Regions from separate parts of the Homo sapiens genome. Here region 1 is linked to region 2. Evidence: fine-mapped expression QTL. A gene starts in region 2. The other region holds a variant in brackets. All regions are shown on one strand. Distances are between the middles of the regions. Region 1 holds the start of LOC112268143 (a long non-coding RNA gene). Region 2 holds the start of ADAMTS7 (ADAM metallopeptidase with thrombospondin type 1 motif 7).

Region 1 (8,320 bases), 52 kb before region 2:
GCCATGTCCTGGGGCTAAGAGCTGCCTTTAGGGACAGGCTCGTGTTGTCCAGTTTGCCCTGAGAGATGCACCTGACCAGGGGCCCGTCGTGGCTGCAACCCACGGTGGTATGTTAGTGTTTCCAGGCAGTTGTCAGCAGCTGCCGGGTAGTGTGTGTGTGCGACAGCAGGAGAGTTCCTGGAGGAAAGGGACTGGGGACACTTTCTCAGAGGTTCTCCTGCCTGGAATCAAGTGATGCGTGTCCAGAAGGCAAGAGAGGGCGGCTCCGCCTGGTTAAAGTTTGGGAACGGGACGGAGCCAACTCCTCCTTCCAGGACTGTGGGCCCCACTCTTTTGCGCTAACACTTCCCCTCCCTCGGGTCACTGAGGAAAGAGCTGCTCTGTCCCCTCCAGTGCCCTGAAGGTCCCTGGCCTCCACTGGCTGCCATGGCAGGGGGCCCTTCTGACAGGGGCTGCCCCAAGCTGCTGTTCCTCCTCTGAACCTTCACCCCAACACCCAGCCCGTGGCCCCTGCAAGGGGGACCCTGCCAGCTGGGAAACCCAAAGGCCTGTCCAAATGCGCGCACCAGGACCGAGGGGAGCTCCCTCCCCACATCTGCTGCGAATTGCCAGCTTTTAAATGGATGGGGTTTTTTATGGGTTGAACCTCTGTTAATACTTTTGTACACTCTCACTACAGTTTATATTTTTATAGGCTATTTTCTCAAGGTGTTTCTAGATTCCACATATCTATTTTATATAACAAGTTCTTATGTTATGTGTGTGACTCCCTTGTGTGTATCTGTGCCAGCCTCAGCCTCCGAGTTGCTTTTCCCTCTGGCCCTGACTCTCACTGACTCACCGATGTGATGTGCAGGCCCACTTCTTACCCCAGATAGCCTCGGGTGCTGCCTGTAGTCATGCTGACAGCTGTACAGTAGCCGCCAAGACTGCTGACGGCTGGAGACGGTTCTGGTTTCAACAACTACGGTATATTGATATCGGAAGTATTCTAGACAGATCCTCAGTTGGGTTTTCTAGCTACATGTTTGTATTGCACAGATCCCCACCTGCCATCCTATAGTGTTGTCTTCCTGTGTGTTCCGGGGCTTCTGGGCAGCTGGGCCTGCCCGGGGAAGTCCTTGCAGGTGGGAGGCCATACAGAGACCCAGTGTGTGCCACTGAGCGTCCCACCGCTGCTGGGCAACTGGAGGACTGCAGGGGGCGCCAGGTGACTCTCTCCTTTTATATCACAGCAGCTCCTGTGCTGACCTTCAAGTTATGTTTTGGAACTGTAATACTAAAGGAAGAAATAAACTACTAATTTGTATAATATTCTGCATTGAAATTCAGTTATAGTCACTAGTGATGGGGCTCACCCCAAGGGCTTGGAGGGTGGGGCAGGGCTTATTGGTGTTGCGGGGGGCGAGGAGGGGCTCTCCAACCTTCCAGCCTGGCGTTTCTGGGTGTCTCTGCCCTTGGCTCACCCTGGGGCGGGTGCATCAGGATGCCTTTGCCAGCAGGGGCAGCCTTGGGAGGCCCCAAGAACCATGGCCAAGCTGCAGGTGTGGGCTGGGGGCACCGAGGTGGGAAAGCCGGAAGCTGGAGACTCCCTGTGTCCGGATAACCCCCCGCCCAGCCACAAAGAACAGGCATGCCTCCTTCCGCCAGCTGTGCCATGCCCTGCCTGAGTCACAGGCTTGTTTGTCTCCCGTCTTGGCTGACAGCTCAGGCCCAGCTGCCACTGGGGACACCCCCAGTCATCAGTGGAAAACACCCAAGAATGATGAAGACCAAAGGGGTTCCCATAGGGGTGTTTCGGGGTGGCTCCATCAAGGATTCCCAGACAGGGCAGGCCAAGGCCTGGCAGGCTTTTCTCTTCTGGGGACGTGGATTCAGCGAGGCTGGGGGTTCCTGGAGTCACGCAGCAGAGCGGCGGCGGCAGAGCTGGGACAGGGACTGGTTCGGTGTGTGGGTCAGGAGCAAGTCGACAGGCCCTGCTCCCCACCCCTTGGAAGGGAGTGCCACCAGGGGCCGTTCTGACTAAGGCCTGGGAAGCCGTGACTCAGAGCGTGGGTCCCCAGGGTCTCTTTGGGCCAGCCGGGCTGCTGCAGACAGACAGGAAGCACGCCTGACGCTCCTCCACCCTCGGGCAGCACAGCGGGGCTGGGACTCACGCTAGCTTGCCCAGCAACTTGCTTTCCTGCGTGAACTCTGGCAGGCTGCCCTCTCTGTGCAAAGCCACCACTGGGACCTGCTTGGGGCCCTCTCCCTCTTCCACCTGCTCAGGGTAGCCTGGAGCTTGGAGGTGGGCAGTCGGAGCCTAGGATGGGCCTGTGTCACCAGGGCATGTGCCCTTGGGCCAGGTACTTCCTCTCAGAGCCTTGAGTTCCTCCTCTGAGGATCGGGCTTGTTGGTGTGAAATGAGGTGAGCATGTTGAATTGGGGAGCAGCAGGACACGCACCTGCAGGCAGCTGCCGTGGCCATGCTCCCTCCCTCCCTTCCAAGTCCTGGGACAGACGCTCATCGCCGAGGGGTTCAGCCTCTGATACTGTTTCTTGGTCTCAGCCCCTAAGGAGTAATTTTATTTTATTTTTTTTGTGTGAGATGGAGTCTCGCTCTGTCGCCCAGGCTGGTGTGTAAAGGTGCGAACTCAGTTCACTGCAACCTCCGCCTCCCAGGTTCAAGCGATTCTCCTTCCTCAGCCTCCCAAGTAGCTGGGATTACAGGTCCCCATCACCGCACCTGGCTAATTTTTGTATTTTTAGCAGAAATGGGGTTTTGCCACATTGGCCAGGCTGGTTTCAAACTCCTGACCTCAGGTGATCCGCCCGCCTCAGCCTCCCAAAGTGCTGGGATTACAGGTGTGAGCCACCGCGCCCAGCCAGGAGTGATTTTCAGTGGTGTCCCCTCCATCCCCAGCATATACCCAGCCCTGAGTGGCTGCGGCTGCCACATGCAGGCTCCAGGGCTACATTCACCTTTCGTCCAGGGTTGTCATACGCTGGAGAGTAGAATGTGAGAGGTGACCCCTGTAGGCTGCAGGGCGAGCTCTCTGAACCTTAGTGTCCCCCACCTGGAGAAGGGGCGTAACACCTTCCAGGGGGAGGGCTGAGGAAGAAATTGTCAACGGCTGAGTCTAAGGCTCACAGCCAGAGGCCAGGGTTGGATCCAGGGCTGGGCCTGGGCCTGGGGGGACAGTGTCCGCCCCTTCCCCAGCCTCCCGCCCCTGGTCAGGCCAGGACCCTCTTCAAAGCACCTTCATGCCCATCTGTTCCCTGCTGTGGGCACTACTGTCTGGCTCCATGGGACTAGATTTTATGGGAGGGGAAGGGGCTGTGGGTAGGCAGGTGCCAGGTGCTGGACCATAGATCAGCGTGGTAGGAACCTGTAGCTGGGGCTGGTGGTGGGAAAGGGGCCAACCTGAGGCAGTGACAATTAGCCCAGCCCTATCTCTGGGCACAGAGATGAAGGGACACGTGGGGACACAGTAGGGCACAGCTGGCCAGCCTGCTCTTCCCCTCTCTGCCTGCTTTTTGCAGAAGAGTCAACAGATAGAACAGACAGGGCCAGGGAGGTCCCCATGGGGGCCCCAGTCCCCACCACTCCAGGGGGCAGTCCCTGCAAGTGACATGGTGGGCTCAATCCCTGTGGAACAGGTCTCTGAGGACCACAGAGTGGGGCCCCAGGGAAGGCTGGGAGCCTGAGCTGAAGGCAGGCAGCAAGTAAGGGCCAAGCCGTGCCCCTGCCCGGAAGACCTTCCTGCCCCCAGAACCCCACCCTCTGCAGACAGCCCTCCCTGGGGAGCAGCCCCCCAGCTTCTGAGGCCTTCCGTGCCTCACCAGATGCCATGCTCTCAGGGACTCATTTTCTACGCTGCCCCCTGCAGATCTGTCCCAGAGGAGCAGGTGAAAAGCCACGCCTGCCGAGGTGCTGTGGCGGTGGAGTTTTGGGCAGAGGGGTGGGGGGAAGAGTTTCTCACTTTTAAGATTCTCCAAATCCAAGACGAAGTCACGCTGTGCTTTGGAATGGTAGATGCTCATTTATGTAAAATCATAATAAATGTTACACAAACTGTTAGAATAAAAAAATACCTTTTTTGAGGGGGAGGAGGTCCCCAGCCTGCTGCTGGGTAGTGAGAGGGGGTTAGCACCATTAGGGCGCAGGGGGCGGGAGCTC[C/T]GCCACAGCCCGTGGTGGGCACTGAGGTCTGTCGGTCGGTCTGTGCATCCTGGCGCAGTCAGCGGCGGGCAACCCGCTGATGGCCTCGGGAGGGGGCGCCGTGGCTGGGCGGAGAGCACGAGCGGCAGCACTGGGTGCGGATGGTGGGCAGCTGGCAGCGGCCCAGTAGGCGCAGCGTCTCGCAGAACCCGAAGGACAGGCGGTCCCGCTCACAGCCTGGAGTGGGGGGGCAGAGAGGCATCAGAACCAGTAGCTTGGGGTACCCAGAACCTGGCTCCCTACGCCAACCACCTTAAGGAGGCTCCAGCAGCTCCCCACCAAGCAGAGAGCCCCAGTTTCTGGAGCGGCTCCCGAACCGGAGTTGCAGGTCTCCAACTGTTGCTGTCTCTGTCCCACCTACTCATGGCCAACCCCAGGACTCGAGAACGGGTGCTGCTGGGCTGAGGTTTCTGGAGGAAAGGTCCTGAGACCCCACCCTGACCCCCTCACATGCCTGTTAAAGAGCCTGCCCAGGGCGACGCCTTGCCACCCCATCTCCATCCTTGCTCATCCCTGGTGTTCCCGGACAGATCCTGGCACAGAACTGCGGTCCCGGGGCCTCCTGCCAGCCTGCAGCGGCCTCTGCCCCCGACTCCCGCCACCGCCCCCTGCCCCAGTGCATCTGTCCTGCCAGGCCTCCGTGACCACCTCCAGCCACAGGGGCTGTACTCAGCCTCGGGTTCTGAGTCACAGGGTCCCATCTCCCAGGCCAGCCTCCCACTTCTCAGGTGGGCCACGAAGCCTAGAGTGAGTGGGCCTTACAGGCCGTCAGCGGAAACCAGAGACTGAGCCCAGCCTGCTGGGGAGGGAGGCCAGCTGCAGGCTGTGCTTGTCAGGGCTGAGGCTTGGCTGGGCCCTCCTGCCCCGTGGTTATCAGAGCTATTTTGGGAAGTGGCTTGTTTCCAGCCTCCTGGCCTTGCTCCTGATGCCACTGCCACTGCTGACAGCCCCCAGCTGCCACCCGGGCCCTGCTTACTCCAGCAGACCTCCCTGGGGAGGAGGAGCAGGAAGGCAGCAGCCAGCCCTGGGCCTGGGACATCCCCCAGGCCCGGCAGAGGGCACGAGGCAGCAGGCAGGCTCCTCCACCCCAGCTCCAGGCAGAGCTCCAAAGTGCACATCTGCAGGCCTGCATCCTGGTCGCCCGGGGTGACCTCAGACAAGCTGCTTCACCTCTTGGGCCTCGGTTCCCTCCTCTGTCAACCCCACCTCCACAGCAAATGGATGTGGCCATGCTGTGTCACTGCAGTGAGCACACACACACGAGTTTCCCAGCTTTCCACATGTCCCGCCAACTGTCCCACAGACCAGCAGAACATCTGGGAATTCCAGGTCTCCAAGTCCAAGACACCTTCCCAGCCCCCCTCCACTGTTCACTGATGGCAGAAAACTCCTCACTTAGGACAGCTTCTAGTTCAGCCACCTAACCAGCCCCCATAGCCCACTCCCTGCAGCCCACTCACACCCGCCCCTGGGAGACCTTGCAAGCCCAGAGCCTCCTGGGCCATCCGTCCTTGGTTCTAGGCCCCCAGGGGCCTCAGTTTCTGTTCTCTGCCCCATCTGGTCCTCCCCCACTGGGATCATAACCACCCCGCTCCCTGTGGCCAGCCCTAGCCATAAAGGTGAGAGACGTGGTGCCAGCACCCAGCTCAGGTAGCACATAGGAGTGCTCTGAGATGCTGGCTGGGTGCGTGCTGAGGGCAGGCAGGACAGGGTGGGGGCGCTGCCACTGGGCCTTGAGGTTTGAGGCAGGAAGACCACCCATGCCAGAGGCAGGGCAGCGAGGCATGGCAGGGGCCACTCTGAGCCTGAATGAGGGCTGCCCAGGAGCTGGCACAGGTAGAGAAGGCAGCGTTGGACAAGGGGAGAAGGCAGACCGGGGAGATTGCAGGGGGCCCTGAATGCCAGCTTGAGGGCCCTGGCTGAGGACTCTGTCCTAGGGGCAGGGAGCAGACAGCCAATAGCACAGGGGACACAGCTCTTCACGCCACGGCTTCTGGATTCCTTAGACTGGCAGGGTCAGCCCCAGGCCCTCTCCCTGACCTTGCAATTGGGGATGACAGTGGCTGTGGGGGAGGGGAAAAAGCCACCTTCCCTGAGCACCACCTGGATCCCCACGCAGTGCTGCGTGCTTCATGCCCAGACCTCATTTATGCAAGGATGGGGCTTGGCAGCCCCTTTATTCAGCACATGAAGGCCCTGAGAGGGAAATGGAGCCCAAGGCCACACAGCTGGTGAGGGGAGCCTAGGTGACACTCCAGGGCCACCCCATTTCCTGCCCTCAGCACTTCCGGGAGCAGCTGGGGCTGCAGGAAGGAAGTGTATGACTGTGTGTGTGTGTGTTGGCGTGTGTGTGTGTGTGCGCGCACGCACACATGCTGGAGGCGGCGGCAGGGGTGTCCAGAACCACCTCTACCTCAGGCCCTTCCACCAGGACCCAGCTGGCCAGGAAACCCCCCACCACTGGGATTAACAGGACCCTGGAAGGGAGGCCCTTCCTGCCTCAAACCCCATTACCTCATTAGCAGGACCCTGGAAAGGAGGCCCTTCCTGTGGTTCCATTGCTCACTCTAGGCAGTCCTCTAGCCAGGGAATGGACAGGCCAGGGCTGGGGACAGGGACTCACCCAGGCCCAGTTTTCACACAGCCTCAGGGACATCCCTGGTCTCACTGTGGGAAGACTGAGACCTAGAGGAGAAAGAGCTTACCCAGGTTCACACAGCAAATCAGGGGCCAGGGCCACTCCCTCTACTCCCCCAAGGTCAGACAGCTGCCTATGGGATGTTGTGTGGCCGGGACTCCCCTTGACTGACTCCCAGCACAGCCCAGCCTCCAGCATGGCATCCTGTGGCATCAGGATTTTCAGTGGCCATGTGGCTCCTGAGCCCAGACTACAGATGGAACCAGCCAGTGCCGTGGGCACAATGGTTTGACGACCCCATTTCCCCATCACCCTCCCCACCCCACCTCACTTCAGCAGGGAGCCTGGGGTCAGGGGACTCACGGGGAGGCTCGACGGGCTCACAATCCTCGGTGCCACACGGCCGGGAGCTCTCAGGCCAGGCCTCGTGGCCACACTGGTCACTGTCTTCCTCGGGCAGCCCTGTCTGGGTGTTGACACACTTGACCAGGCGCCGCTGGACACCACCACCACAGGGGCCTGAGCACTGAGGGGAGCGGGGGAGGAATGAGTGTCTCCAGGGCCAGCCCTAGCAGTGGGGGCAGGGACACCTCCTCTGGGAAGCCGTCCCTGCGCCCTGTGCCTGACTGGCCTGGCCTTGCTCCCAGCCGCCCCCTCAGTGCCTCCTGGAGCACCTGGTCCCATTCCTAGAGCCCACTTGGTGCTGGAACCCCACTCTCACTTGTGGGATCGGCTCCTGCAGAGGGAAGGGGCGTGAGAACCGTGGGACAGCCCTCGGGGCGGCAGGGCAGTGAGCCCCTCACACAGGACATGCCTGAGAAGCCTGGGCAGGGGCGCCGGGATGGAGCCCTGATGCAGCAGTGGGCAGAGATGTGGGCGAGACACCGCTGTGCCCGAGGGACAGGGCAGAGGACCTGCCGCAGCCCATGGGCAGGAGGGCAGGAGACAGTTTCACAGCCGGGGCCCAGCCCGCCAGGCTTCGTTGTTATCAGCCCTAAACATGCACTGAGTCTGTGCCAGTGTCATGCTGTGCCCGGCCCTGTGCTTCGTTGCGTTCCTTCATTTAATCCTCCTGACCCTCCTCTCCTAAGCTGTTCCAGTTTTACAGATGAGAAAACAGTGACCCAGCAACGCAAAGCAACCTGCCCAGAGTCACTCAGCAGCCAGTCGGACAAAGACGCAAACGCTGGCCCAGCTGACTCCAGGACCCAGCTCAGGGCCCAAATCTGAGATTTCTGAACCCCTCAGTTCCAAACAGGCCCAGCAGAAGGTGTCCTGCCCATCTGAGGCCCCTCTTACGCCCCCTTCTGCCGCTGGCCTTTGCCGGGCTCCCCGGCCCCCTCAAGCTCGTCATTCCTGCCTCAGACTTCACACCTGATGTCCCTTCGATCCCTGTCCTTGGCATCACTGACTCCTCCCTCGGGTCTCAACCCCAGACCCCTCCTTGGAAGGCCTTCCCTGACACCACAGCACACGCGCCCTTT
Region 2 (8,320 bases):
CAAAGAAGCATCCTATTAAGTTCAAAAATGTGGACAGGGCTAAGTAGAGCTATGCCGCAGGTGAAAAGCATTCGGATTAGTGAGCTCTAGAGCCAGAGAGGCTGTGTTTGAATCCCAGCTCTGCTACCCATATCTGTGAGACCATGGGTAAATTACTCAACCACTCAGAATCTCAGTTTCTCCATCTGTAAAATGGGGATGATAATAATTACAGCTGCTCTCTTTGGTTGTGTAAGAATTAAATGAGTTAGTATGTAAGTGCTTATAACAACAGCTGGCACATAGCAAATGTGAGCTAAGTTATGACTGAAAATTAGCAAGAGAACTTCTAAAGTATATTTAGCTTTTTCTTTTAAAAACTTGTTGTTTTATCTGTTTGCCTAATGGCTTAAAAACAAACAAAACAAAACAAAACAAAAAACATGTTTTTATTTATTTATTTCTTTTTTTTTTTTCTGAGATCTCCCAGGCTGGAGTGCAGTGATGCGATCGTGGTTTACTGCAGCCTTGACCTCCTGGGCTCATGCAATCCTCCCACCTCAGCCTCCCAAATAGCTGGGACTACAGGCGTGGACTACCAGGCCTGGATAATTTTTAAATTTTTTTGTAGAGATGGGGTCTCATTATGCTGCCCAGGCTGGTCTTGAATTTCTGGGCTCAAACGATCTGCCTACCTTGGCCTCCCAAAGTGCTGGAATTACAGGTGTGAATCACTGTGTCTGGTCTAAAACATGTTTTTCAATCAACAATAAAAGAATAGACTTACAGGATGTTGCCACTTTTATTGCAATAATTTTTTTCTTGTTTTGTTCAGATTTTTTCTTTTGAGACAGTCTCCCTGTGTCACCCAGGCTAGAATGCAGTGGTGCGATCTCGGCTCACCGCAACCTCTGCCTCCTGGGTTCAAGCAATTCTCATGCCTCAGCCTTCCGAGGAGCTGGGATTACAGGCATGCACCACCATGTCCAGCTAATTTTTGTATTTTAATAGAGATGGAGTTTCACCATGTTGGCCAGGCTGGTTTCGAACTCCTGGCCTCAAGTGATCCGCCAGCCTCAGCTTCCCAAAGTGCTGGGATTACAAGCATGAGCCACTGCAGCCCGCCAGCATTACCTTTTTTTATAGTGAACTTGTATTGTTTTGCCATTAAAATATTTTTAAAAAGTGCAGGGGTAAGTTTAAAAATAAGTAACTTTCACTGTAGCCTAGTTGACCTCACTCAGTAGAGATGTTGGTGGCTGAAACTAGCACCACCCAGTGCCAGCAAGGAGTAATTGCAGGTTCCAGTCTCGACCGGTTATGTGCTTGCAACAAAGCTGAGCCTGCAGAGTTCAAGTGACAGTGGGATGGCAACAGGCACCATTCAAGAGGACTGCCAGAGATTCATGGCCAAATCTATTCTGCCAAGTCAGGAGGTCTGTTCTGATTGGACCAAGCTCCTGCCACATTGGGTGTTAAATACTTTTAATATCTCCCCTGGGTGACAGAACTGTCACTTTGGAGCTTCTACCAAAGAAATGCCAAGATGGTGTTTACCCTCACCTCCCTATCAAGAACCTGAGTTACAATCCAGCCCTTCAAATGACCCACAGCTCATGCCAAGGAGGAAAAATAACTGGCAGGGTGGGGGGTAGTATGTGAATGCCCTCCTCTGTGAGTTCTAGTATGCACAGAAACACATGCACACAGAGTTCACATGTGCCATACGGCATGAGGAGGACACATGACTGGGCTCCAGCCTCAGAAACCCTAGCAGGTCCCTGGGTCAGTCACAAGTGGGGAAAAGGGATATATTTTCCTAAAAGTGAGCCCAGGATGAGCCCTTTGGTCTTAAAGAAGGTAACATTCAGTGGTAGGAGGAGCCCCAGGCTTAGGTCCTGGGCTTCAAAGAAAATGACAAACAGGCCAGCAGCCTCAGAGTCACCAATCCTGAGGGAGTGCAGAACAGGAAGGACCCCATGCTCTATATCTATGGGAACACTAGAGACAGACTTCACCCTTGGAGTGTTTGTGCCCAGATTAGGTTGGAGAGAGTGCCTGGCCTGCCTCCACCCTCAAACAGCAGGTCCAGGTCATCTGGGGAGTCCTGGGTCGGCCTGGCAGATTAATAAAAATAATGACCACTACATTGTAGTCACTGTGTCCTGCCTGAGCAACTGACATATTCAATATCTCATTTAATCCTCATAAGAATCCCACGAGGTTGACCGCACCCAACTCTTCCCACAGCTGCCAGGGGGCCAGGACCCAAGTCCTGAGGGAAGCATTTTCCTGCTCTCCCATTCCCATCGCCCGGTTCATCCTCCTCAGCCCCCAGCTCTGGACAGTGGAAAACACAAGCCTCATTCAGGAAGCTCAGGAGTCCAACCCCACAGGTCGCTCTACTCTGAGCCTGTTTGCTGGTCCATAAAAGGACTTTCCATCACTTGCTTTGCACGGTTGTTGTGGAGATGATGAGAAATAAGAACCCGTGAGGCTGGCACACAGTAGGTGCTCATTAAATGTTCGCTCCCTCTGCGCTCTGCGCATGGCTGCTAGACCAAATCTTTCCAAAACACTGCTTTCATCAGCTGCTCCCCTCAACGGCTTCCCAAACCTCTAAGATCAAGAGTCAATGTCCCCATCCTTCCCGCCCAGACTACTTTCTCGTCACAATCCCTCCAGTGGGGAGGCAGGTCGACCCCATCCCAGCAAGCAACCCTAATCCAGTCCCCCGACTGATGCTCCCCAGGGGAGGGCCCCACTCCCTCCACGCCCTTCTAGCTCATCCAGAATCCATCCATCCTTCCAGTCTCTCCAACCTCATGCCCCTCCTCTCCTACAAAGCCTGCCGGTCGGCTCTATTGCAGGACTCTCCCCACTATCCACCGGCTCCCCTGACTGGGAGCTCCCTGAGCACCGGGCCTGGGGTCTCCTACATCCTCGGTTACTGAATTCCCAGGCCGGCTGCGTCGGACGCGCCAGCAGCGCGGCCGCCCGGCAGGTCGCCGCCAAACAAGAGTCTGGACGCAGGCCAGAGGCTCGTCGGAGGCCGGCCCGGCGGGGCGGGGAGAGTTAACCCATGGCCGGGAAAAGAAGCTCCTGCTCCCCGCTCCACTCCCGGCGTCTTCACACTTGGGGAAGGGAGAGGCAGGAAGTGCAAGGACCGCGCAAGACCCGGCCCCCCGAGCCGCCAGGGGCCGCGCCAGCAGCCCAGATGCGGTGGGCGGGAGCTGGGGGGGCGGCGGGGTCCCGCGAAGACCTGCGACCTGGCGCCCTCGCCGGCTGTGTCCCGGCCAGCCCGCTTTCCAGGCGAGCCTCGCTAAGGAGTGTGAGAAACCAAATCCTCAGTGGGTAAACCGCGCTCCGTCCAGCCCACTCGGACGAGAGCTCTCCCGGGAGCCAGGCGCGTTGCTGCACCCGAGGTGGGGAAACCGGAGCCCGAAGAGCGGAAGGGGCTTATTCCAGGCGACAGGCAGTGTCAGTAACTGAATCAGGGGCCGAGGAAGTTTCCCCAGAAGCGCGGCTTCGCTCCCGGCCCGGCCCGACCCCGACTACTGTCCCCTAATACCCAGGGAGCGGAAGACGCGACCAACTCCAGGCACAGCGGAGCCGGCGCGGGGTCCACAAAGGTGAGGAGGGACAAAACCGAGACTGGGGGAGCGGGAAGGGGTGGCAGGCCCGGCTGGCCGGGGAGGGGCGGACACCCACCTGGTGCGGGTCCGGGGGCGCCGGGAGCCAGAGCGCAGAGGAGCAGGAGGAGGGGGCGCAGCAAAGGCGCGGGGCTGCGGGGACTGGGGCCGCCGGGCATGGCAGGAACCGGGCGGCCGCCGGGTGACCCCGCGCGCACGCTCTCGTCCGTCCCGTCCGGTCGCTGCCTGGTCCCAGGTCCGGCTCAGGACATGCCCGGCCGGCGTGCAGCTCCCGGCGACCCGGCCCCGACTCCGTTCGGCTGCGCTCGGTCCGCGGGCAACAAAGGCTGCAGGGCCCGCCCCCTTGGCCGCTGCAGAGGCAAAGAAAAGACAAGAGAGCTAGAAGGAGAGAAAGAAAGAAAGAAAGAAAGGGAGGGAGAGTGAGGGAGGGCGGCTGCCGGCCCCCGCCCCGCCCCTCGGACTCCTTCCCCCGCCCCTGGCCCCGCCCCGCCCCGGCCGGCCCCGGCCTCATCGGCCCCGCAGGCCGTGCTCGCCTCAAGGGCTGGCCGGCCCGGCGCAGGCAGCGCCCCGCAACGGATGTCCGCCCCCCTCGCCCCCCTGTCCCGAGCGCCCCCTGCCGGCGGAGCCCTGCCAGGCCTTTCCGACCCCGGCCGGTTGAGGACCCCCGGAAAGAATCTGGAATTTCCAGAATTAATGTGTTGTCCCTAAATTGGGCTCCACGAGGTGCCCTTCGCTGTGTTCCCCAGGCCAAGCAGGGCAGCCCCTCAAAAGGGGACGCGGGAGGCCTCCAGAGGGCCACACCGGGGGCCCTGCTTCAAAGCTATCTGCGGAGACAGGCCTGGGCCCTCCCTGGACAGACAGCGGTTGCCCGCGCGAGGTGGGGCCCCGCAGTTCCTCGTCTCCTGACTCCTCTCCTAGTGCGTTTGCTTGAAGCAGAGCGCAGAGTTGAGCCCACAGGCGGGGGACCGCGGCTTCGCCCAGGCCAGCGCCCACAGACTTTCAGCAGGGGCTCCCGGGGAGCCTGGAGGCCGGCCAACCCCAGCCTCACATCCCAGGCCAGCCTCCGCCTCCAACACCGGCCGTCTGTCCTTCGTGGCCCCAGCCCTGGCTCTGGCTTCCGGCTCCCCTTCCCCCTGTGCTCCCAGGAGCTTCCTTTCTCCCTTCTGCCGTCACTAAACATGGCCCTGTACCGAGGACGCCCGTCTTGTCCTCGGGGCGGTTGCGGTCAGCTTCCTCCCCTTGGTTAGTCTTTGTGTGCCCCCTGCCCTCTGAGGCCCGCACACCTCCTCATTGTCCAATCTCCTGGGCCCTTTCATTCAATTCCTGGAAGCTCACTTCTGGCTTCCTCTCCACCCTCAACCTGTCTGTCCTCTAGGGAATTTGTGTAGTACAGGGTCACCTACTTCCTCCATCTCATCTCCAGTGACCTTCCACTCCACCTCAGCCATCAGGTCTCAGGGCCAAAGCCTGGGCTGTGTCATCCCTCAGAACTGCTCCATCTTGGAAATCCGAAGCTCAGGTGCCCCCCTGTCAGACCCGACTCTGCAGTCCTTTCCACCTTCACAGTCCCACTATGTATTGCTCTTCCTCCAGTCCCTTGATACCTTCCTCTTCGCCCAACCTACCAGCCCCTCCTGGCTTCACCTACTTCCCTCCCAGCTACATCTACTGCTTGACTCCTGGCCCCTACCCAACCACCTTGCATTTCTTCCCCACTGCTTACACCAGCTGGTCTTGCTGCTCAGTGACATGGACAATTCAGACCACCACATCCTACCATGCACACTGCATACAATGAGCCTTTGTAGCTGGCACCCACTCACTTCTCCCTCCATCTGGACACAGTGAAACAGGTGCCCTCCAGCAGTCAGAGACAATGCTTCCACCAGGGCTCTGTGGCTCCCTCCCCTCCTGTCTCCTCAAAGGTCCTGCTCCAGGTGTCCCCCGCTTTCCTTGGTCTCCTTGGGTTGGTGACCGTCAGTCTAAAAACATTCTTGTCTTCCTCCTATTAAAGATACTGATAATAGCTGGGTATAGTGGCACAGGCCTGTAGTCCCAGTGATACTCAGGAGGCTGAGGAGGGAGGATTACTTGAACCCAGAAGTTCCAGGCCAGTCTGGGAGACATACTGAGACACTGTCTCTAGGGAAAAACAAACAAACAAACAAAAAGCAGGCAAGGTGCCTCACACCTATAATCTCAACACTTTGGGAGGCTGAGGTGGGAGGGTCACTTGAGCCCCGAGTTTGGGACCAGCCTGGGCAACATAGTGAAACACCGTCTCTACAAAAAAATTAAAAATTAGCCCAGCATGGTGGCATATGCCTGTGATCCCAGCTATTTGGGGGGCTGAGGTGGGAGGATCACTTGAGTCCAGGAGATTGAGGCTGGGCCAGGCCTGGCCCCACCAATGAGCAGTAGCCAAGATCACGCCACTGCATTCCGGCCTGTGCAACAAAGTGAGGCCCTGTCTCAAAAAAAACAAAAAAAGTACTGATAATACCCCTCCATGGACTGGGTGTCCCCTCTAATTCCCACCCCACATATCTGCTCCCTGTCTTAGTCAAACTTCTCCCTCAAGGTTGTCTAGATTCCCCCTTTTCCCATTTGTACCTCAGGCTAAGCCTCTTGTCCCCCCATCTTGGTGTCAAAGCCAAATTCCTTCTCCACCTTGACCTGCACAGTGCATTCTAGAGATACCCTCCCTGTTCACATACCTCCACTCTGCCCTCATCACCTGGCACATCTCTTCTTCACTCCATAAGATCAAGTATGCACTGCAGACCCAGGGCACTGGGGACACAGCTGTGAACAGGTGGATAAGGTCTCTGTTCCCTGGAGCTCCCACTCTGGAGGAGGCCATGGACAGCAAGCAAATAGACAGATGGATAAACAATTCAGACCACCATATAAACAAGACCAGCTACAGAGAGGTGCTTTGAAGAAAATAAAACCGGAAGTGACTAGAGTCTACTTTCCATGGGGTGGTCAGGGAAGGCCTTCCTAAAAAGGTGACATTTAAGCTGTGATACCAGAATGACAAAAAGGAGCCAGTCATGTGAAGGTGAAAGGGAGAAGATGTGAGCCAGGCATGGGATGCATGCCTGTTGTCCTACCTGCTCAGGAGAATGTGGAGGGAGGATCCTTTGAACCCAGGAGATCGAGGCTGCAGTGAGCTCTGATTGCACCACTGCACTCCAGCCTAGGCGAGAGAATGAGAGACCCTGTCTCTAGAAATAAAAATAAATCTTAAAAAGCTGGACACTGGTCAGGCGCAGTGGCTCACACCTGTAATCCCAGCACTTTGGGAGGCCGAGGATGGCGGATCACTTGAGGTCAGGAGTTCGAGACCAACCTGGCCAACATGGTGAAACCCCCTCCTCTAATAAAAATACAAAAAAAATTAGCTGGGCGTTGTGGCGGACAGATGCCTGTAATCCCAGCTACTCAGGAGGCTGAGGCAGGATAATTGCTTGAACCTGGGAGGCAGAGTTTGCTCTGAGCCGAGATCCTGCCACTGCACTCCAGCCAGCGACAGAGCGAGACTCAGTCTCAAAAAATAAAAAATAAATAAAAGATGGGCATAAACTTGATGTCCCTGAGACTTGTCCTTTCAGACCTAGGCTGTACGTCACCCCTTCCAGCACGTCCCCCCTGACCTCTTAGGTTCCCCAGAGCACCCTTTGCCATCCCCGTTGACAGCTCACTAGACTGCTATTGTCTGGTTATGGGTCTGTCAACCCCGACACACCGTGAGATGCTAAGGTCATGTCTTGGTCTTTGTGATCCCTGCCACCAGCACAGCAAAACCTAGAGATCAGGAGGATCTGGGGAGGGGACACACAGCCCTCCCTGGCCAACACCACAAACTGCCTCCATGCTGCCAAGGCCCAACAGTAGATTGGAGGCTTTTTTGAAATGCAGCCTTGGAGTTTGTGTTTTCAAATCCCACGTCTGATGACAGTCCCTGCCTGCTTCCTCCTCTGTCCCAGGTCCTGGTCTTTACTCCATCCACACCCTGCTGGGTGCCTTCATTTTAAAGCTTCTCGGAAACCATAGGATACAAAAAAAGGATACAAAAAATGATAAGCCTTAGTCATGCCCTCATGATGCAAAAATAATTCAACTGGAAAAACAGGAACAGCCAACTCCAAATTTCGGGGAGTGAAGTGTACATTTTGTTTTTGTGTTTTTCGGTTTTATTGTTGTTGTTGTTGTTTGAGATGGAGTCTCGCTCTGTTGCCCAGGCTGGAGTGTAGTGGCACGATCTTGGCTCACTACAGCCTCTGCCTCCTGGGTTCAAGCAATTCTCCTGCCTCGGTCTCCCAAGTAGTTGGGACTACAGGCATTCGCCACCTCACCCAGCTAATTTTTGTATTTTTAGTAGAGACAAGGTTTCACCATATTGGCCAGGCTGGCCTCAAACTCCTGACCTCAGGTGATCCGCCCACCTTGGCCTCTCAAAGTTCTGGGATTATAGGCGTGAGCCACCATGCCTACCCCAAAGTGTACATTTTGAACAAAGCAAGAGATTTGATATTTCAACACATATTTTATGTCATTGTTCAGAGTGTCAAGTATCCAGTTAGTGAGCTTCCCCCCTGTATCTTGATATAAATTATTTCATTTATTGTTTAAATGATTATCATGCTATATGACCCAACATCTCCAGTAAGCTTTAACATAGC

The links.
Region 1: its variant is fine-mapped to the expression of ADAMTS7 in lung (TOPMed, PIP above 0.99).

What each region holds. Positions count from the first base shown.
Region 1 is chr15:78,755,204-78,763,523 of GRCh38, forward strand. It overlaps ADAMTS7 (ADAM metallopeptidase with thrombospondin type 1 motif 7), which reads right to left. Exons shown (of 24, transcript NM_014272.5): 23 at 7,200-7,362; 24 at 4,003-4,375. The coding sequence ends at 4,218. It overlaps LOC112268143 (a long non-coding RNA gene), which reads right to left and starts at 2,542. Exons shown (of 2, transcript XR_002957697.1): 1 at 2,445-2,542; 2 at 761-1,279. RefSeq lists enhancers at 1,119-1,923, 1,599-1,808, 1,924-2,728. The variant C/T (reference allele first, on the strand shown) is at 4,160.
Region 2 is chr15:78,807,431-78,815,750 of GRCh38, forward strand. It overlaps ADAMTS7 (ADAM metallopeptidase with thrombospondin type 1 motif 7), which reads right to left and starts at 4,034. Exons shown (of 24, transcript NM_014272.5): 1 at 3,691-4,034. The coding sequence starts at 3,790. RefSeq lists a silencer at 4,062-4,481.